Homo sapiens: one gene and its partners. The protein of the gene in region 2 interacts with the protein of the main gene of each other region in a biochemical or structural test. Each region holds a gene or a part of one and is shown on either strand. Other genes may lie near its edges. The genes, in order: UFM1, SAYSD1 and RPL26.

Region 1 (7,254 bases), on a different chromosome or scaffold from region 2:
GTTGTCAGGGGCTAAGCAGGAGGGAGGGTGAATAGGTGGAGCACAGAACTTTCAGGGCAGTGGACTATTCTGTATGATACTATAATGGTAGATACATGTCAATGTATATTTGTCTAAACCCATAAAATGTACAACACCAAGAGTTAACCCTAATGTGAACTATGGGCTCTGGGTGATAATGATGTGTCAATGTGGGCTCATCATCCGTAATAAACGTACCACTCTGCTGAAGGATGTTGAAAATGTGAGAGGCTATGAATATATAGGGATAGGAAGTATCTTTATCTGCTCAATTTTGCTGTGAACCTAAAACTGCTCTAAAAAATAAAGTCTATAAAAAAATACTCTGGGCTGGAGAAAGGAGGAGAAGAAAATGATAAACATTGTAAGGTCTCCCCGAAATATGGCCCTATTCCTTCATCCCTAGGGAAACAATCTCTAGGGAATTTCAGAATCAGAGAAAAGATGCCCAGTTCCTGCTCCCATTGAAGCCCAGGAAGACAACAAAGTTCCCTTCATTCTAGGGAGAAAACATGTTATCTTTAGTCAAAGATGTCTGAGCTCTTCTGGGTTCCCTATAGCCACAGGGTGGTACAAGAGGGCACTTTTCTTACATCCCTTAGAGACAACAAACAGTCCTAAAGTCGTCTTGCCAGCACACAAAAAGGAGTGATATCACCAGACAAAAATGAGATGTCATGTGTCTCAGATGTTTGGAGTGGACACAAATATCACTGAGAATATGGAGAGATGATGACAAAGGACCAGACGTCACAGTCCTCTGAAGCCTGTATTCTACATAAAACTGCAAGAAGAGTCATGTGGGGAGAAACTACAAATGGATCTAAAAATCTCAACTTGAATCAGAAAACCTTAAGTTAATAGAGAAAAGTAAAAATAGAACATTAATATTTACCTCATTTAGCTGGTGGAAGGATAAAAATATGTAAATGTGGAAAAAAAAAACTCATGGTTGAAATGGATTTGTCAGAGGCTACTTCAGTTTTTCTAAAAGTAATGTTTCCATTAAATGAAGAATTCGCACAATATTTAGAGAGAAAATTTAATTATACCAGACTGTTAAATTCCTGTTTTTCACAGTTCAAAATGCCATTTTGTAATAAAGATATTTTACAAATTCTGTGGTTAAAATATTCCACGTTTTGTGATTAAGCCTCAAATTTAGAAACATTGTAGTCAATGAGCTTCGTAGAAAAGTCATTTCTTTTTCTCACTGAATTTTAGAAAATATTTGGGAAAAATATGTAACTGTAACAATCAAATGTAGCACATTTAGAGCTATAGTCTTCTGTAAGGGCTTGCCTGGACTTGCTAGGCTCCGATCTCACCTGGGTTTCATTGTTCTTTTTGACTCAAAGGAATGTAAATATTCTCTAACCTTCTAGTCCTTACCTTGAAAAATAACACAGCATTTACATATTCCCAAGTACTTCTGTAACCAAATCCACTCTCTCCTCTTTGTATAAGGCTTCTTGTCACTAAATTATGACTTATAGCCAAGGCATCAAAGTTTAAAGTCTATATTTTGTCATTGATTTGTACAAAGTGGTTAATACCAGCCAAAAATAAATCTTAATGAATTTTGAGTCATTATTATCATTGCTTCAATTATATCAATGCCTTTTAGTGGATTTTGAGGGGAGAAAAGGCAATAGAAAAAAATGAACAAATTAAAGTACTATTAAAATACCAGTCAATTATTAATTGATCAGTCTATAATTTGTTCCCTGTAATATAAAGTATTTGGAATAGAACACCTTAAGATTTATTCAGGTGCAGATGTTTCAAGATTACATAATTTGACTATCAGATGGTTCTAGTCATAATCGTAAATACAATCAAATTATGGTGAAAATGAAAGAATTTTTTTTGGCATCCAGAGGAATATAAAAAATAAAGTTGGCTATAAAAATAACTAGTCAGAAGAATTTCTATGACTATGGAAGCAAATCTTTTTAGTCCTTATGTAAATTTAATTTCCTTCTGGCTTTCTTCTAATAATGGGAAATTTATATGCATTTGCAAATAGAATATTGGTATGCTTCATTGACATTTAATGAGGTCTAACATGGTCACACTGTGCACTTCTACAGTCATTTCTGCCTCTACATGATACTAATTGGATCTTTTCCAAAACACATTAGGCCATTTATGCTATTTGTTGTCTTAAAATGTTCCATTGCCAATTATCTCCAAAAATTTGCTCCAGAGTTTGCTTCTGATTACAGCCATTAAACGTACTTCAACATTTTAACTTTTCAGTAAAAGAGAAGGTCCTTGTTTTGCTATAAAATTTTCCAATTGCAAATCCCTTCACAAAGTTAAAAAAATTGATTATAAATAAATCCATTTATAATTTCTTTCTTGTCCTAAGCAAAATAAAACTCAGGAGGCTGCAGAAATCATGCTGTGACTCTGAGGAGACAAACATGAGAAGCAGAGTTGGGGACTGAGGTGAAAAAGAATTCTAAATATTTAGAAACAGCTGCTTTTTAATATCTCAAGAGATGTTATTTTGATATATTATACAAATGTATTTTCTGAAGCAGCAGAATCTGAGTACTAAAGTCACACTGTGGGACTGAATTCTGTTTTCACCACTTTTTATACATACAATAAAAGCTCTCTGATTAATATCCATTTTTCTCTTTAGGATTTTGCCACGTTTTGATTCATGAGCAGAAACCAAACTATAAATAGCAGGATGCAAATTTTGTTTCAAAATATATTATATGTAGTCTTATAGACTGTAAATATGTACACTCATCTCTTTCATTATTATTTGGCTAGCTGACAATAGGTAGACACAATCACAGTTTTATCCTTATTACTATTCTCACAAGTTTTAGTCACACCCACTAATTGAATAGTTTCAGCTATTAAGGCTGTAACTGTTGATCCCTGTATCTGTCAATCAATATTTGGCTTCATCTACATATATGGTAAGACCATTATTTTAAAAAGTGAGGATGGCTGTCATGAGAATGTTGGAGTCTTACTTGCCTACTCAGAACCAGAACTCTCTCCACTGGGAAATGTCACCATAGAAGATCAGTTGGCTGCAAAATTATTGTAAAGATGAATTTGATCTCCATTATCCCTACTACAGTTCCTTCCTGGTTCCTCTCTTAAGTATCTCTCCTTAAGAATCTGATGCATATTCTAAAGATCAACTAGATTGCCCCATTATTTTAATGCCTACCTGCTTCCTCCTTTGTCTATTCATGCTAATGTTTTAAAAGGGCATTTCAGTCATTGTGAGACAGACGCATATTTTCCAAACACAGAGGTTTAGATCTGTAATAAAGTTTAGAGGACAATTTTCTTCCGTCATCACTACACAGGATGTTAGATCCTAGAGAGTTGACGCCTACCTGCCTTACTCATCTTGGATTCCCCAGAGTTTAGCTTAGCGCCGGGCAAATAGAAAGGGTTCAAAGTTGGTTGTTAAATTGAATAAATGTGGTCAGTGATTAGCAACTCAGCGCACTGGTTTAATTAGACCATATAACAAATTACTGAAATCTCCTGTTCATAGATGTGTCTTCCCAACTAGACGCCACGTTCCCCAAACGTAGAAACCTCATTTTTTCTCACCCACCCCAGCGGGAGTCTTGGCATAGATAATTCGTACTTGATAGCTCTCTTACTTAACCGAAATTCAATAGTTATAAATCAGTATCGGAAAGTAAAGCGTGAAGGAGAAACTATGAGAAATGTAAAGGATATAACAGGATTGGTTTGCTGGAAAGACGGAAGAAAACTAATGATAAAGCAGTGTTACAATTCCTGCTTCTGGAGCACCAATTAAGCTTTTCCGCGCTCAGGTTGCCTTAGAAACTTTAGAGCGCGTCCGCCCCAGCCCCGCCCCCGGCCTCGCCCCGAGCTTCGCCCCAAGTCCATCTCGCTCTTCATCCGACTACCCCATACCCTTACTTCCGCCCCAACCTGCCAACTGGAACCTAGGGTCCTACGCTCTATGCCCACGCTTATTCTGCCTGACTAAAAATATGGTAGCAAATTACCAAAGTTAGAAAGATATCTTATAAATATAATCCATACTTTTTTCTTAGATATATAAACGCAAAAGCACAAGATATTTGTAATTTAAAAGCGCCATCTAGCATGAGCTCTTAGGGCCAATTTTCAGGCAGTGCGTTGGATAGCAACAACTTCGGAGGTCCCCAGATTGCAGAGGGAGACGTGGACGTGAGTGGAGCGGGGCGGTCCCCAGCACACTAGAGGAAGTCGTGCTACCCCCGCGGAGTTGTCGTGTGTTCTGGATTCATTCCGGCACCACCATGTAAGTGTTTGCTTACCGACTGCCATAATTCCTGGTCCAGCTGCCCGACCCTGACTCTCTCCCGCTCTTTTCCTCAGGTCGAAGGTTTCCTTTAAGATCACGCTGACGTCGGACCCACGGCTGCCGTACAAAGTGTGAGTAGCTCGGCCGAGATGGGCCTTTTGGGGCCGGACAAGACGGGGCTGGGTTGGGGATGATCCGAGCTTTTCCAACAACTACCCCACGCAGTCTTCATCTCTTCACTTCATCTACTTTCCTGGCTCGCGCCCTTCCAGGAGCCTTTCCCACCGGAGCCTGCGAGGAGAGGTCCGTACTTGCTCGCTAAGTGTCAGCTTGGCAGCTTGGCCCCGTCACGAGGGTGTGGGTGTGTTTCTGATTAGTGACCTCCCCTCGGAATTCATTTGGTGGGCAGGTGGCGCGGGAGGACAGGTGGACCAGGTTCTGGTAATTTGTTGGGATTCTTAAACAGTCCCCATCTGCTGGATATTAGAAAAGCGTTTCACCGCTTTGGCCAGCTGGTTGAGGAAGTTAAGGAAGACATTCCATCTTGATAGTCAAGACTTTGAAATTACTTGAACATTTGTTATTCCGCGGCTTCTGAGTTTCGTTGTGTATGAGTAACTCAGCAGTCGGGCATCACAAAGTAATGAGACTCAGATCACACCCTTCCTATGCTGGGATTTAATAGAGTATTTGGTAGGAATGGGAAATGCAGATAGGGGATAGTTTATCCATGTGGGGCCTTTACTTATCCTTCGCAGTTGAGTGATAGATTTTAAGTAAACACTCTTGAGGTTATTGCAGTTGGAAGTAGCATGAAATGTAGCAAAGAACAGGATTACAATAGAATTTTTTGCATAATTAATTAGTACCTTGGCCTACCTAGCTGACTGATAAATTTCAATGATTTACCAATCCATGATCCGTACAACCTCTCAGCCTTTTCCTCCCTTGATCTTTTCATCTCCAAAATATCCCTGTTACACTTTATCTCAGGTGTTCATGGTTGCAGCCTAGAACCTTAAGATTCCAATAATTGCTCCATCTCTGAGATGTCGTTTACAGGCACTCTTATGGATAAATACATTCTCTCCTACATGATTTACTATAATTTCTCATCTACAACGTTTCATTTAATCCATTAATCACAGTGATTTTTTATCTGTAGCTATCCCCACTTCTATTCCTTACCTTACTCCTTATATAGTTAAGAGTCCATTGGTCCACCTTTAAATCATTCTCATGCAAACACCCTCAACTCTGGTGGCCCTGTCTCTCCTCTCAGCATATTTTGGTTAGTGAAACACCAACTCTGAAACCAGCTGTTTGTATTATCTGTACATAGCTGACTGCCCCTGGAGAAAATAACAGACTGGAGGGTTTACATTAAATTCATGACTACAATTAATAGTACCTAGTACTTAATACATTCTTCAAGTTTGCTCATTTTCCTCCTTATTCTCAGAAAAGATTGTTTAAAAATTTCAAACTTTCCACAGCTGCTGTCTCCCTTGCTATCAAGCCATCAGAGGGAAATTCTATCATCTTTACACCAATGTAAACCTACCACTACATGGATAAATCCGTTAATTTCCCATCCTGTTAGAATGGAAAAAATGACTTCACTCCTATGAAAAACCACTTGAGCTATAGTTCCCATCTATTTCAGTCTTGTCAAGGTTAAAGTAGATGGAGTCCAGTGCCCCCTCTCTCCTCATGATTGGTTTTTCCCTTTCTACTGGATTATTCTCATCAATATGCAAATGTACTCGAAAGAGAGCGTGAGAAGGAAGGAAGAAAATGATAGAGTAGGACAATAACATTAAGAGCCTGGAACATTGTACCAGTTCAGTTAATATGTGGTGACTGAATGAATTTAGTAGGTACAACTGTTGTTTAGTATGTATGTGTGCGTGTGTAGTTGTGTGTGTATGTGTATAAGGATGTGTGTGTGGAAAATTCACATAACGTGTAAATGTGTGTACAAGGGTATCTGTGCTATATTTTCTTTTCAAAGTACATGGTAACTAGTACTTGGGTACTTGACAAGCTTGCCCTTTTAATCTTTGCTTCCTTTACACATGTTCTTTTCTGTGCTTAGAATGCAGTCTCATGATCACAACATATTTTATAGTAATAAAAATCTCACCTCTATGAAGTTTGTTTTTTTTTCTTTCTTTCTTTTTTTTTTTTTTTTTGTGAAACAAAGTCTCGCTCTGTTGCCCAGGTTGGAGTGCAGTGGCACGATCTTGGCTCACTGCAACGCCCGCCTTCCCAGTTCTTCTCCTTCCTCAGCCTCCCAAATAGCTGGGACCACAGGTGTGTGCCACCTTGCCCAGCTAATTTTTTGTATTTTTAGTAGAGACGGGGTGTCACTGTGTTAGCCAGGATGGTTTCCATCTCCTGACCTCGTGATCTGCCCACCTCGGCCTCCCAAAGTTCTGGGATTATAGGCGTGAGCCACCCCTTCTGGCCAAAGATTTTTCTAATTGTCCACAGAGTTAATCTCGCCCTTCTTGAGTTACCTGTGGACTTAGTCTTTATAATAATTCTTACCAATTTATGTTATTATTTTGTTTATATATTTATTTAAAAAACAAATGATGCCAGTAATTTACTTCAAAAATTCTCATTAATGTAAATTTATTCAAAACACTGGGATAATTTAAGTACCGATTTTATGAAATGACTGGCAAATACAACTTTAAATCTAGATAAGATCTGTGGAGTCACTGTAACTCTCATTTTTTCTAATTTTCTGCCAGTTAGAACTTGCATTAAAAGATGTTTTCATTTTTGATTTGTTTTTATTGGCTTGTCTGTGGACACTCACCAACTTAATATACAGATAGAAACTTATTTTAATGAGCATCAGTATGACATCTAGGTATATTGTAAGGACATTTCCAAGTCTCCGATTTAAAAGTGAA
Region 2 (7,311 bases):
TTGGGTATGTATGTATTGGTTAGCATTTGCTGTGTAACATGCAACTGCAAAATTTCAGTTATGTAAAATAAGCATTTGTTTTCATACATTTTAGGGTAAGCTGGGGGTTAGCTATTTGAGGCTGTGCTCAGTTGGGCAGCTCAGCTTTAAACTGCAAGTCTCTGGGTCAGCCAGGTGACCACAACCTAGATGTCTTTCATTATTCTTGGATTAGCTGGCTAGCTGTTGCAAGTTCATCTCATGGAAATGTGGAATATTAAGAGAATTTATTTAACAGGACAAACACACTTCAAGTTCCTGCTCACGTAGTTTCTGCCATCATCCCATTTGGCCAAAGCAATCTGCATGGCTGAGTTTACAGTCAAGGAATGGGGAAGTCTACTCTGCCTTTTACGGCGTGGATACAGATAGGAATATAGAATCGGGCCAATGACTCAATTCTATAACAAGGCCTGTATTAGTGCATTCTTGCATTGCTATGAAGAAACACCTGAGACTGGGTAATTTATAAAGAGGTTTAATTGGTTCACAGTTCTGCAGGCTATATAGGAAGCATAGCTGGGGAGGCCTCAGGAAACTTATAATCATGGCAGAAGGTGAAGGGAAAGCATGCAGGTCTTACATGGCTGGAGCAGGAGGAAGAGAGAAGGGGCAGGAAAGTGCCACAATTTTTTTTTTTTCCAAGACAGGGTCTCGCTCTGTTGCCCGGGCTGGAGTGTAGTGGCACGATCTCACCTCACGGCAACCTCCACCTCCTGGGTTCACCCAATTCTCATGCCTCAGTCTCCCGAGTAGCTAGGATTACAGGCGTGTGCCACCATGCCCAGCTAATTTTTATGTTTTTAGTAGAGACAAGGTTTCACCATGTTGGCCAGGCTGGTCTCAAACCCCTTGTCTCAAGTGATCCACCTGCCTTGGCCTCCCAAAGTGCTGGGATTACAGGCGTGAGACACTGCACCCAGCCATGCCACACACTTTTACACAACCAGATCTAGTGAGAACTCTATCACAAGACAGCACTAGGAGGATGGTGCTAAACCATTAGAAAAAAACTCATGATCCAATCTCACCAGGCCGCACCTCCACACTGGGGATTACAATTTGACATGAAATTTGGGCAGGGACACAGATCCAAACCATATCATGTGGGTATTTTATTTATAACTTATATGTATGACACATACACATTATATATGTTATGTATATGGCATATACATTATATATATGTAAAATGTGGCATTTACAAAATATTTCATAATAAAAATTAATGAAATTCACACATTAAGCACATTTTGGGGACCCTTCTTATTTACTAGTCTCATAATCCCGTCCAAAGAGGAAATAAAGTTGGCTTGGCAGGAGTTGTTCTTCATGATGGTCTCTTTCATCTTTTCTTTTTTCTATTCTTTTAACCTCTTCCAAAAAGGATTTAAAGAGGCTTACAAAGCACCAAGTAAAAGTAAATTCATAATAAATAAAACAAAGCAAAAAGAAAATAAGGTTTCCAAAGCAAGACAGAGCAGGAACCACATTAGCTCTGGCCTGGATGTTCTGTTTGCCTCTTCTGATCCTCTTTCCACCCTTCTCTACCTGTTCTATGCTCCCTGAAGGGCTCCTGTGTCTCCTTGCTTCTCCTATAGCTACAGGGCTCACTGGGTTCTGATAACTGCTCTGTCCTCCTGATGCTTTGGGCCTAGAGACAGGTAGCACTTCCTGTGAACCATCCCTTGCTGGCTTCCTTCATCCTGCCACACCTTTGTAACTTACTCCTTCACTAAGCCCTTCTTACTTCACCCTTTGGAAGGTGCCACGTTTCCTGTCAGGGACCCTGACTGCAACCGCCCACAAATTGTATGCCTTAATTCTATACACCTGCAAGATGCGGGCCTAAGGTCTTAGAGTCATTATCAAGTGGGAGACAAAATCGGTTAAAGAATCCCATCTCTCAAGAGAAGCAGACATACTCCTGACACCAAAATGGGCAAGAAATTTCCTCTTGTGGTTTCTCAAAGAGAGGACATTGTGGTGTAATAATCCCATTCTTTTCTCTTACAAACCATCTCTAATCCACTCAGGGCTCAGCCCTCAAATCTCTTCTTATCCACACTCACTGTTTGATCTTATCTAGTCTTACAGCTTTAAATATACACATGCTGATGACTCCCAGTGTGTGCCTCCGGTCCTGACTTTCCCCTCAAATCATTTTCACTATCTAACTGCCTATTTTTTGGATATCCAATAGGCATCCCAAGTTCTTTGTATGTCCAAAACAAAACTTCCAGTGTTTATTCTGTAATTCTCTCCTCCCAGTGTGCCCTCATTTCAATAGAGGGCCCCAGCATCATTTGCCTGGTTGCTCAGGGCATGTGTGTATGTATATGGGGGGGCAGGAGGAGTGGGGTAGTAATGGAAGAAACCTGTCATCCTTTTTTTTTTTTTTTTTTTTTAATAGCGATGAGGTCTTGCTATGTTCCCCAGGCTGGTCTTGAACTCCTAGGTTCAAGCGATCCCCCTGCCTTGGCCTCCCAAAGTGCTGGGATTATAGGCGTGAGCCACGATGGCTGGCCCTGTCATCCTTGATACCTTTTTTCCTCACATTCCACATCCAATCCGTCTCACACCATGTTGGCTCAGGTCTTCAAAATACATTCAGAATCTGACCAATTCTCGTGACCTCCATCACTACCACTCTAGCTCAAACTACTACAGTTTCTCATTCTACCATATTTATTCCTAACTAGTTTCCCTTCTTCTATTCTTGCAATCTTCCAGGGTCCCACCTCCATCAGCCAGTGTAATCCTTTAAAAATATGTCATATCATATCATCTCCTGCTCAAAATCCACTAACTGCTTCCCACCACACTTAGTCTTCACCATGGCCTACAGGGCCTTACATGCACGATCTTGCCCCTGGCATCTTTATTTTCTGTCACTCTTTCCTCCCTCCCTCCCTCCCTCTCTCCCCCTCTCTCCCTCCTTCCCTCCTTCCCTCCCTCCCTCCCTGCCTCCCTCTCCCTCCTTCCAATCCAGTCATAACAGCCTCCCTGATGTTCTGTGAACAAGTCAAGCGTGCTATTTGAGGCCTCGGGACCTTTGCACTTGTTCCTCTGACTGAAACACTCCTGTTCAGATATCTACATACCTCACTCATTTAAGTCTATGCCCAAATGACAAACCTTCAGGGAGGTCTTCTCTAATACCTCCACCATTGCCTACTTTGCTTCACTTTTCTTCACAGCACTTATCAGTACCTGATATGACATGAAATATGTAGATACACATTTGTTTATTGTCTGTATTTCCATTTGGAGTGTAAGCTCTAAGAAAACAGGTTTTTGTTTGTTTTTTCCTTTCATCCCAGCATCCCCAGTGCCTGTGACTTTAGACAGAGCAGGCCCTAGGTAAACGTCTGTTAAATGAATGGATGACTCTGTTCTAATTTGTCTAATTTCTCGAGTCACCCTCAGCCAGATCCAACAAATATTTGAGTCTTAATTATGTAAGTGACACTTAGCTAGATGCTTACAGCTTTAAGAACGTATAAAACAGCCCCTAACCTGAACTGTGTCCTTTTGGGAGGGTACTGATTGGGAGAGGGCACAAGGAAACTCCCAGAGTACAGAAATGTTCTTTCTCTCCATCTGGGTGGTAGTTACACAGGTGCATACATAAGAGCAAATCTACTGAGTCATATTCTTAAGATGTGTATTTTATGTTGCACCCCAATAAAAGTTTTTGTTGTTGGTTTTTTTAAGGTTCTGACGTATCTAGACACAAAACGAGATAATTTCCCAACGTGGCAAGACCAATGATGGAGCTGCACAGCCTGCTTTGTGAGCAGTGAGAAAGTCACCCTCCAGGTACTAAGATTGGCATACCCTTTCCTTGATAAGAGAAAAAGGGTAAGATGTAGCCTGTTATTCCTCTGACGCTGGAATGTCGTAGAGATCACGGGCCTCTCCTAACCCCTGGAACCATCTTCTCACTGTGGCGCTGTTCATTGGGGCCCAGCAACAGAGATCCCGAATACAGGACGCTGGATCAGTGGGGCCTCGAGCCCTTAAGTGAGATGCAGCAAGGCAGAGCGGCCTTTGGGAGAGGGCAATGGGGCAGCCCTGTGCTTTAGACTTGGCTTGAGGAGGTGACACTGTGTCCACGTGCCTGTGAAGAGAGAACGGCTGAGTATACACGCGACCCGCCAGACTTCACAAACGGAGGAGACGCGGGTCACACCAGTGCGCATGCTCAGCAGGGGCTTCTGCCACGCAGGCGCACGGCGGCCGGCGCGGGCCGAGCGGAGGCAACTGCTGTGCGGCCTGCGGGCGCGCGCTCCCTTATCGGCCAACGGACGCGAGGCGCGCGCCATGGAACAGCGGTTAGCTGAGTTTCGGGCGGCGCGGAAACGGGCGGGTCTGGCGGCCCAACCCCCTGCTGCCAGTCAGGGCGCACAAACCCCAGGAGAGAAGGCGGAAGCAGCAGCGACTCTAAAGGCAGCCCCAGGCTGGCTAAAGCGGTTCCTGGTATGGAAACCTAGGCCCGCGAGTGCCCGGGCCCAGCCCGGCCTAGTTCAGGTGAGACGATGGAAACTTCGGCCCTAGGACCTGGCCTCGGAGCCACAGTCGAGGGCGCGGCCCTAGCTGCCGGGGGTGTGGCCCTAGCTGCCGGAGGCGGGGCTACTGGCCCCCCATCCTGATCGAGGGCCGGACCGCTCATCTCCGGCCACACGTGTCAGCACTGTTACCAGTTTTGACATTTTCTTTCCAGCCCGCGACCCACGCAGGTCCTGATTCCAGCGAGAGTCGAGGGTCCTGGGAGAAAGCACCTCTGCTCTTAAATTATTCACTCCGAATTGAGTTATCGTGACGCCCTGTGGCATTGGGAAACCTCTCCACAACCAAGTTGAGCCACAGCCCTCTGCTAATGGAGGAGGGTAAAAGGTCTAATTGGATACCGATCACAAGTAGCAGTAATTAAAACTTCATTTGATTCGCACCTGGGGCACATGCAGCTAGTAGCCCAGATAGCCTGTGACTTAGAAATGCGTTTGAATACAGAATTTACCAAAGTGTGGTAGCTGTAACTGCCGGTAGTGGCAGAAGCTTATTCCAGTTCCATAGTGAATGTTCAAGACACAAACAAAAAAAAGTGATTTAGTATGATAACCTTTTCACATTTAATTGTTTTGGTAATCTCTTGTTTTGCAGATGAATTTAATTTGCATCCTTTTGTGTTTTCATTTAGTTTTAACTCAGTAAAATGGTAAGGTGGCTTGCAGTGAGGTTGAAATGTCTATGTGGAAATACAAGACAAAACATATCAAGGGATGAGTGCTTTGTAACAATTTGTGCCCAGTGCTTTGTTCCTCATAAGTGCAATAAGAACTAAAAAATTCCTTTTAAAATGAAAATATACTGGAAGAAAAGTGTACCTTGCTCACCTTAAAATTATTTCCTGTAAGTTCATCTATTATTGCACAACATTTGATTTGAGGGAATTTTTAAAAATTACTGAACCTATTACTCAATTTTGATTTGATATTCTCAGTGATATACAGGATTCCAGCTGACTTGCAGAAAGGTGAAAAGAGCGCAGCAGAGTTCAGACAATCCATTTCCTTGTGTGCAGTTTGTGTTAATTGTCTTTGGATAATTTTATTGTTGACTAGAACTTTCTAAGTACAACACTTGCTTAAGATTTTAGAAACCATTTCCCTTATTCTTTTTCTCTCTGCAGTTAAAAAACAATGTCTAACCCATGCAATGAACTTTTGACTGTATGTCTCATTTCCAAAGGAATGAGATCATTGAGGTGGACCCAGAGAAACTGAATTCAGAGAAAAACTTCCATTATTGAGAACCCAAACGCTGATTGCCAGACAAAAGGATGAGAGGAAATGCTGGACCTCCAGTTTCTTGTTAATTGCTCTGTTTTTCCATAAGGGACTCTGCCTTAAGCTCATTTTCATTGACTTATCATTTCTGGGTTTGCTCTGGTGTGAAAATTCTCATTTAATTTTTTTTCTTCAGATTCTGCCTCTAGTTTAGAAAAGAAAAAGTCTAATTTACAATTCATGTCAGACAATTTTGATGGCACACTGTGGCCTGTCAGAGATTTCTTTAGCATTCTATTTTTTTAAATTATTTTTAATTTTTGTTTTTTTAATTGAAACAGCTTTATTGAAATAAGGTTTACATACTACAGAATTTATCTCTTTTAACATACAGTTCAAAGATTTTTAGTAAATTTATTGAGTCATGCAACCATCACTGCAACTTTAGAACGTCTCTATCACTCCAAGAAGACCCCTCTTGCACATTAGCAGTTACTACCCATTTCCAACCCCAGCCCCGCACAAATGTCAGTCTGCTTTCTATCTATACATTTGTCTTTTCCGGATGTTTCATGTAAATGGAATTATACAGTATGGTAAACACATTTTTTGTCTATTAATTTTTATATTCAACTAGGTTCAACATGTAGCCGTAGCCAAATATTTTAAATTTTCCTTCTGGAAGTTTGAAAATATTTATCTTTTTTGATACTTACTTCTCCTTCTGCTTTCTCTTTTTCATACTGAAACAGTCTTTTAAATGATTGCATTCATTGATTAATTCCTTATTTTTCCCTTCTAGCAGAAGACCTTCCTTTTCACTCTCAAGACAGCATCCTTGGATATTAATTACCTTTTGTTCATTATCCCCTTTCTTATGAGCACCATCTAGTTGTTGAAGCAACAGATTTTCATGTTGTAGTTGAGATATTCTCTCCTCTACGTAGTCCCACTTTCCAAAGGATTTACTTGGCTTAGGTCCTTTTGTACACTTTATAAAACCAAAACCTTTTCTCTGAGAGAATTTCTTGTGTCATGGAGTTTACTTTTTAGGGTATTGAATTCGAGCTTCGGAAAGTTGCTCAGTTAAAAACTCATTATTATCTTTTAGTTCAGAAATATCAGAACTCATTTTCTTTCTTGTAAAGAAACGTCTTGTGCTCTCTGTAAAGCAAGTTCTAGGTCTCTTTTTGTTTTCACACTTTGATCACACTCACTTATAGCAGCAGCCAGTCTAGCATGGAATGACTCAACTTCAGCTTCCAGTCTTTCCTTGTTTTGATTTTCCTTCTCCAGTTTAGACTTGAGCATTGTATTCTCAGTTTTGAGGTCGTTAAGCTGTTGACCATACTGGGATACTGTTTTTGTTAATGTTTTTCCATTCAGTTTTATAGTCTCTTGAAGGTCATCATTCATTTCTTTAACAATTTCAATGTCCTTTTTCCCTTTCGAGGTTCCTATTTTTTATTGTGTATACTTA
Region 3 (6,934 bases), on a different chromosome or scaffold from region 2:
GGGAACTGCCAGCTCCTACGCCGCCCCCCCATCCCCCACAAAGCATCCATCGGTGACACTTGATTATGCTTATCTGGTCACATCTGTCTCCTCCTTAACGAAGTGCTCCTTCCGGGGAGGCTAGATCTTATAGATCTTGGTATCTCCAGTGCCTGACACAGAATTTAGTAAACAGTAAGAGCTGGAGAAATATTTGGAGAATGAGTGAATGAATGAATAAACCTGACAGCTTGGTGTTTAGAAAAAAGTTAAGTCTAATCAACTCTGGGTGTGGAATCTAGCTATAATCCCTGCTTTGCTATGTCTGAAGGCTTCAAAATGATCCTAAAGGGACCTTTTTCAAATCCAGGAAGAGGAATGTGGGCAGCGAGGGAGAGAGAGTGCAGTCAGACTAGGCTGCAGGGTGAAGGCAAGACACCCAACAGACACGTTAAGAGAAAGGGGGCCGGGCACGGTGGCTCACGCCTGTAATCCCAGCACTTTGGGACGCCAAGGCGGGCGGATCACGAGGTCAGGAGATCGAGACCATCCTGGCTAACACGGTGAAACCCCGTCTCTACTAAAAATACAAAAAGAAATTAGCCGGGCATGGTGGCGGGAGCCTGTGGTCCCAGCTACTCGGGAGGCTGAGGCAGGAGAATGGCGTGAACCCGGGAGGCAGAGCTTGCAGTGAGCCGAGATAGCGCCACTGCACTCCAGCCTGGGTGACAGAGCCAGACTCCGTCTCAAAAAAAAAAAAAAGAGAGAAAGGGACGGCCAGGCGTGGTAGCTCACGCCTGTAATCCCGGCACTTTGGGAGGCCGAGGCAGGCAGATCACTTGAGGTCTGGAGTTCGAGACCATCCTGGCCAATGTGGTGAAACCCCATCTCTACCAAAAATAAAAAAATTAGCCAGCCGGGAGTAGTGGCTCATGCCTGTAATCTCAGCTACTCAGAAGGCTGAGGCAGGAGAATTGCTTGAACCCAGGAGGCAGAGGTTGCAGTGAGCAGATATTGCGCCACTGTACTCCAGCCTGGGTGACAGAGCGAGACTCCGCCTCAAAAAAAAAACAAAAAACAAAAAAAAACAGATAGGGACGTTCTAACTAGGCTACTGGCCATTTGCATCTGTATGGACAATTTGTACCCTGCAAATTTTCACATTGTATCAAGTGTCATGCTGTATGGATGGTGGGCTGAAGGTTTAATTTTTTTTTTTTTTGAGACAGAGTCTTGCTCTGTCTCCCAGGCTGAAGTGCAGTGGCATGATCTCCACTCACTGCAAGCTCCGCCTCCCAAGTTCATGCGATTCTCCTGCCTCAGCCTCCCGAGTAGCTGGGATTACAGGTGCACACCGCCACGCCCGGCTAATTTTTTTTTTTTTTAGTAGAGATGGGGTTTCGCCATGCTGGCCAGGCTGGTCTTAAACTTCTGGCCTTAACTTCTGACCTCAAGTCTGCCTGCCTCGGCCTCCCAAAGTGCTAGGATTACAGGCGTGAGCCACCATGCCCGGCCTGAAGGTTTCATTTTGAGACTCGGTATTGAACAGAGGGAGAAAGAAAGGAAGGCCTGGGAGGGTAGGGTGTCAGCAGAGGATGTGAGGGCTGAGGAAACAGAGAGGGCCTTGGTGGGAAGACAGGAAGACGATGGGGACACCCGAACAGGAAGGGAGTTGGGAAACTAGTAAGGACAGTAGGAAGAAAGAGAAGGAGTGACAACGTGAAGGCCAGAAAGGCAAGGCAAGGAAGGAAGGCAGGCACCTTCGGCAGCTCCCTAGGACTTCCAGACCCAAATCACACTCAGCTCAGCCCTAGAGCCCCTGGGCTCCCGTCTAAATGCCTCTCTTCAGCGGCAAGGACCTGGTTCCTGGAAAACACGAGTCACGCTGCTTCACACCTCCAAGCCTTCCTTCAAGCAATTCCTACTGCCTTGTGGAGCGAATGCTAACATTCTTCCAATTCCAGTCAATGCTGACCTCACCTCAGAAGTCTTCCCTGACCCCAGAGCTCCCTTCTGCTCCTGAATCACAGAGACAGCAAGGGCAGCTGGCTCAGCGAGCACTTTTCCTGTGGTCTCGTGGCTGTTGATTCCCTTGTCTATCTTTTCTTGTAGACAGTAAACTTCCTGAAGGCACAAACTTTGACCTATTTTGCATCGCCAGTGTCTAGTTTCAGGGCTGGCCCAGGAAAGAAGCCTCATAAATATTTGTTGAAAAGAGTCGCAGCAGAGGAATTCTTGCTGAATTTTTCAGTGATGAATAAAATCTAGGGCTACTTCCTTCACAGCATATTTAAGAACACAACTATTTTTAAATCATGAAAACGCATGTTCGTTGCTGACCATCCTCTGGGCAGTCCTGACTATGAGGTTCCCACAAATTGGGGCCATATACAGTTCCCAGAAGAGGCCGGGGAGCCAGCCTGCACGGGTTCTGCTGTGACTTATGGGTCCTGTATAACCTTGCACCAAGTTCCTCTCATTTCTCTGTGGCTGAGTTGCCCAATCTGTAAAATGGGGACAATAATACCAGCAACAACAGAGCCATTTTGTGGATTAAAAGAATTCATGATGTAAAGTGTAGAGAAGAGCGTCCCCACACTCAGAAGGCTCACTACGTCTTCGGTATTCTTGTGAAACGCCTGTCCTCTGTCACTGTGACACCCGTGTCATTCATTCAGCAGAAGCCGTTCAGCGCCGGTGCCTGCTGCACTGCCGCTGCCTCAGAAACCATTTGCAGGGGCCGGGCGCGGTGGCTCACGCCTGTAATCCCAGCACTTTGGGAGGCTGAGGCGGGCGGATTGCCTGAGGTCGGGAGTTCGAGACCAGCCTGGCCAACATGGTGAACCCTCGTCTCTACTAAAACTACAAAAATTAGCCGGGCGTGGTGGCGGGCGCCTGTAATCCCAGCTACTCAGGAGGCTGAGGCAGGAGAACCCGGGAGGCGGAGGTTGCAGTGAGTGGAGATCGTGCCAGTGCGCTCCAGCCTGAGCAACAAGAGCGAAACTGTCTCAAAAAGAAGAAAAAGACACACACACACACACACACACACACACACACACACACACACACACACACACACACACACACACACGAAGAAGAAGAAAAGAAACCATTTGCAGGGAGCGCACGGCTTCCGTCTGGTCCTGAACTGGACGCAAACAGGCCGAGCATTTAGAAACCCGCGCAGCTCCCCGCACCGAGAGGCTTCCTCTCGCCTGGCTCCTTCGAAGCGTGGTCTGGACCAGCACCTCCCACAGCACTGGGGGCGCCTTGGAAACGCGGCCTTGGACCTATTTCCGCGGGGGCAGGCGGCGATCGGTGGCCCTGGTCCTCGCAAGGCCCCTCACCACCCAGAACTGAATCTCTGGCGGGCCCTGCTGTGCGGTCAGCAGACGCCCAGGTGCAGGGGCGGTGGCCGGCGTCGCGGTGGAGCTCGTTAAAGTACCGGCACGCTGGCCGCGCCCACGCCACGGGCGGGAGGGGACGGTGAGTGCAGGGACCCAGGCGACCGGCCGGCCGGCGTCCCCGCGCCTCCTGGCGGCCAGAAGCAGGGCCTGCGCTTCCCCGGCTAAGGGGTGCCGGCCCCCGCCCCGGCACCTGGGAGTGAAGGTACCAGCGGGTCTCCTGGGCGGTCTCCTGGGGCCGCTCGTTCCTTCATCACCCCCAGGGGCAGTTGGACCCTGAGCAGCCTTAGCCAATAGCCCCGGGACTACCCTTCCCAGAGGATTCAGCGGCAGCACCCGGGTCTCGGAAGGGAGACACTAGGACCTGGAGGAGGGGAGTTTTGCAATCCCTCGCAGTTCCCCTCCTAGCCACTAGGTGACACTAGCCATAAATTTATTTCCCAGTTTACTCCCCTCGCTCAAACTCCGCGCCCCTCTCGCTCCGAGAGACATAGGTCTCGCGAGATCTTTGGTAAACTTACAGAACCGGAAGCAGCGTGTAGTTCTCTTCCCTTTTGCGGCCATCACCGAAGCGGGAGCGGGTAAGGATTCGGCGGGCAAGCGGGTGTAATCAGCAGCCATCCGTTCTTGGGCATGGTGGCTTCCGACCGCGGGGACCCCGAGAGTCTCTTGTCGGCCGAGTAGCAGCCAGGAAGGAGAGACTGGGATGGTTTTTTATCTGTTGCTTTCTTAAATCAAGGGCCGCCGGGCCGGAGATGGATGGAGGGACCGGGGATTTGGGAACTCGAAAACGAGCTGAGGGAAGGGAGCCTGTGGAAATAGACTGGAGTCTGGGTAGTGTCGTTTCCTAGAGAATGGTCTCGAAGTAACTTCTCGGTAAAGTCTTCACGGAATTTCCAGACCACACTTGCCCACTGGGAGGCTTTTAGGACCCGAGACGTGTGCAGGCTTTTCCAGGTTCGGGTTGGTGGGCCTTATTCATTTTGGCGGGGCTATACGTATTCACTCTTAAGCCTGTAGAAGATGAACGTTGATTGTACCTTCTAAAACGTGAGGTTATAGTTAAGAGAATTGCGTTGTCGGTCTGCTCAGCAGAGATGTAAGTCCAGTCTTGATTTCCTCAGGCACTACTTGAGGAGTTGGGAGAGTGTAACTAAAAGGTCTTATAACTAGGACAAGTGTTTTTGATGCAAAAGTCTTTAGTCCGTAAACATATACAGAAAACACCCGAATAAAACAAAAAATAAAAAGTTTCGAGCTTCGGTTGATAGGCCCTTCCGATCAAACAGTTTTTGTTGAAGTTGCACAACATGACACTGCCTATGATCATTCTAGACTATCAAGATAAAATCATTGCGGTTATTTGTTTGGAAGCTGGATGAGATTTTGGTCATTTAAGAGTCTTTTTAACTTTTTATTTAGCCAAAATGAAGTTTAATCCCTTTGTGACTTCCGACCGAAGCAAGAATCGCAAAAGGCATTTCAATGCACCTTCCCACATTCGAAGGAAGATTATGTCTTCCCCTCTTTCCAAAGAGCTGAGACAGAAGTACAACGTGCGATCCATGCCCATCCGAAAGGATGATGAAGTTCAGGTGTGTATCCCTACTTGTTCTCGTTGTCTTGATGGATATTTTACGCACTTAGCTTAGAAGAGAGATTGCATTCCTGAGAAAGATGCTTCTGAGACTCTTGCTCCCAAAGAGTGGCAAGATGAGTTGAGCCAGGGACCAAAAAACAGTAAGTAAGCTGCTTTTCAGTTTTTAATTGTATTATTTGGTGAAAATCTTTTTTTTTTTTTTTTTTGAGATGAAGTCTCGCTCTTGTCCCCCCCAGGCTGGAGTGCAGTGGTGCCATCTCAGCTCACTGCAACCTTCGCCTCCCGGGTTCAGGCGATTCTCCTGCCTCAGCCTCCCGAGTAGCTGGGATTACAAGCGCCCGCCACCACGGCTCGGCTAATTTTTGTGTTTTTAGTAGAGGCGGGGTTTCACCATGTTGGGCAGGGTGGTCTCGAACTCATGGCGTCAGGTGATCAGCCCGCCTCAGCCTCCCAAAGTGCTGGGATTACAGGCGTGAGCCACCGCGCCCGGCTGAGATGGGGTCTCACTCTTACCCAGACTGGAGTGCAGTTGCGTGGTCATGGCTCTTGTGGGCTCAAGTGATGCTCCCATGTAGGACCTTTTTTTTGTTTCTGTAGAGAGGGGTCTCACTTTACTGCCCAGATTGGTCTCCAACTCCTGGGGATCCTGCCCGAAAATCAGTTTCCTCAAACGTCAGATGATGTGACCATAATTAGGTGACATAATCAGAACATTGCTTTGGGATTAATCCTTTTATCAATATATTGTGACTACCCAACAGGCTCATTTTGCCTGCTGTCCAGATAGAGCCGATTTATCTAGACAGGAATTGCAATAGAGAAAGAGTTTAATTCATGCAGAGCCAGAACGAGAGACCAGAGTTAACTACTCAAATCATTCTCCCGGAAAATTTAGGGATGGGAGTTTTTTTAAGGATAATTTGGCAGGTAGGGGGCCAGGGAGTGGGGCGTGTTGACAGGTCGTATCAGAGATGAAGGCATAGGGAGTTGAAGCTGTCTTCTTGCTCTGAGTTGGTTCCTGGATGGGGGCCACAAGATCAGATGAGCCAGTTTATTGATCTGGGTGGCACCAGCGGATCCATCAGTGCAGGGTCTGAAAAAAAAAAATCACACAAATCTTAGGCTTTACAGTGTGTTATCCCTAGGAGCAATTGGGGAAGCCTCTAGCTGCCTAAACTGTAATTTCTAGTCTTGCAGCTAATTTGTTAGCCTACAAAGGCAGTCTGGTACCCAGGCAAGAAGGGGGTTTGTTTCAGGAAAGCACTGTTAGCATCTTTGTTTCAAAGTTAACCTGTAGACTAAGTTCCTCCCAAAGTTAGTTTGGTCTATGCCCAGGAATGAACAAGGACATCTTGGAGGTTAGAAGCAAGATGGGAGTTAGGTCAGTTCTCTTTAACTGCTGTAATTTTCTCACTGTTGGCAATTTTTGGAAAGGAGGTTTCAATGTTTGGTCATTGAAGAGGCAGTTGAGGACCAGTAAACAGAATTGCTCCCAATCTAGATTCAGGAGCTGTAACTGAAGCACAGTCACGTTATCGTTTGCACTTACAGGTAAATAATTTGTTGCATCTATTTAGGTGAAGGTTTCTATAAATGACCCTTAGGTGTAATCTGTAGTGCAGCTAGTGATTAAAGAATTCAGGCAGTCTCTAAAGCCATTTACATACACACCATCAATATTTTTTCATGCCTATTTCAAAAAGATGAAATGGGTTCCCAAACAAGCAGTGTGGGTTGAGAACAGCCGTTGGTCCCTGCTGCAGTAGTGCTAAACTTGCCAGTAGACCTTGAAAACTGTCATCTCTGTTTTCAATACATACCAATGCAAGAAAGTCACAAACTGGGAAGAAGAATCTGTTCAGAAATACTTGTCCTCACAAACTGAGGACCACTGGGATTCCTGTCCACTAACCTTTGGGAAAGAATTGGTTTGTTCCGTTAAGCATTTGTT

The links.
Region 1: the proteins of SAYSD1 (region 2) and UFM1 form a complex in vitro, tested with the Homo sapiens proteins (one study listed by BioGRID).
Region 3: the proteins of SAYSD1 (region 2) and RPL26 form a complex in vitro, tested with the Homo sapiens proteins (one study listed by BioGRID).

Annotation. Positions count from the first base shown.
Region 1 is NC_000013.11:38,345,598-38,352,851, forward strand, and holds the start of UFM1 (ubiquitin-fold modifier 1), read left to right. Parts: upstream 1-4,253; 5' UTR 4,254-4,322; coding exon 4,323-4,324; intron 4,325-4,401; coding exon 4,402-4,458; exon of another isoform or gene 4,459-4,517; coding exon of another isoform or gene 4,518-4,630; intron 4,631-7,254. UniProt on the Homo sapiens protein: Ubiquitin-like modifier which can be covalently attached via an isopeptide bond to lysine residues of substrate proteins as a monomer or a lysine-linked polymer.
Region 2 is NC_000006.12:39,112,144-39,119,454, reverse strand, and holds the start of SAYSD1 (SAYSvFN domain-containing protein 1), read left to right. Parts: upstream 1-4,268; 5' UTR 4,269-4,365; coding exon 4,366-4,572; intron 4,573-5,734; exon of another isoform or gene 5,735-7,311. UniProt on the Homo sapiens protein: Ufmylation 'reader' component of a translocation-associated quality control pathway, a mechanism that takes place when a ribosome has stalled during translation, and which is required to degrade clogged substrates.
Region 3 is NC_000017.11:8,380,187-8,387,120, reverse strand, and holds the start of RPL26 (large ribosomal subunit protein uL24), read left to right. Parts: upstream 1-3,927; 5' UTR 3,928-3,964; exon of another isoform or gene 3,965-4,340; intron 4,341-4,805; 5' UTR 4,806-4,810; coding exon 4,811-4,978; intron 4,979-6,934. UniProt on the Homo sapiens protein: Component of the large ribosomal subunit. The ribosome is a large ribonucleoprotein complex responsible for the synthesis of proteins in the cell.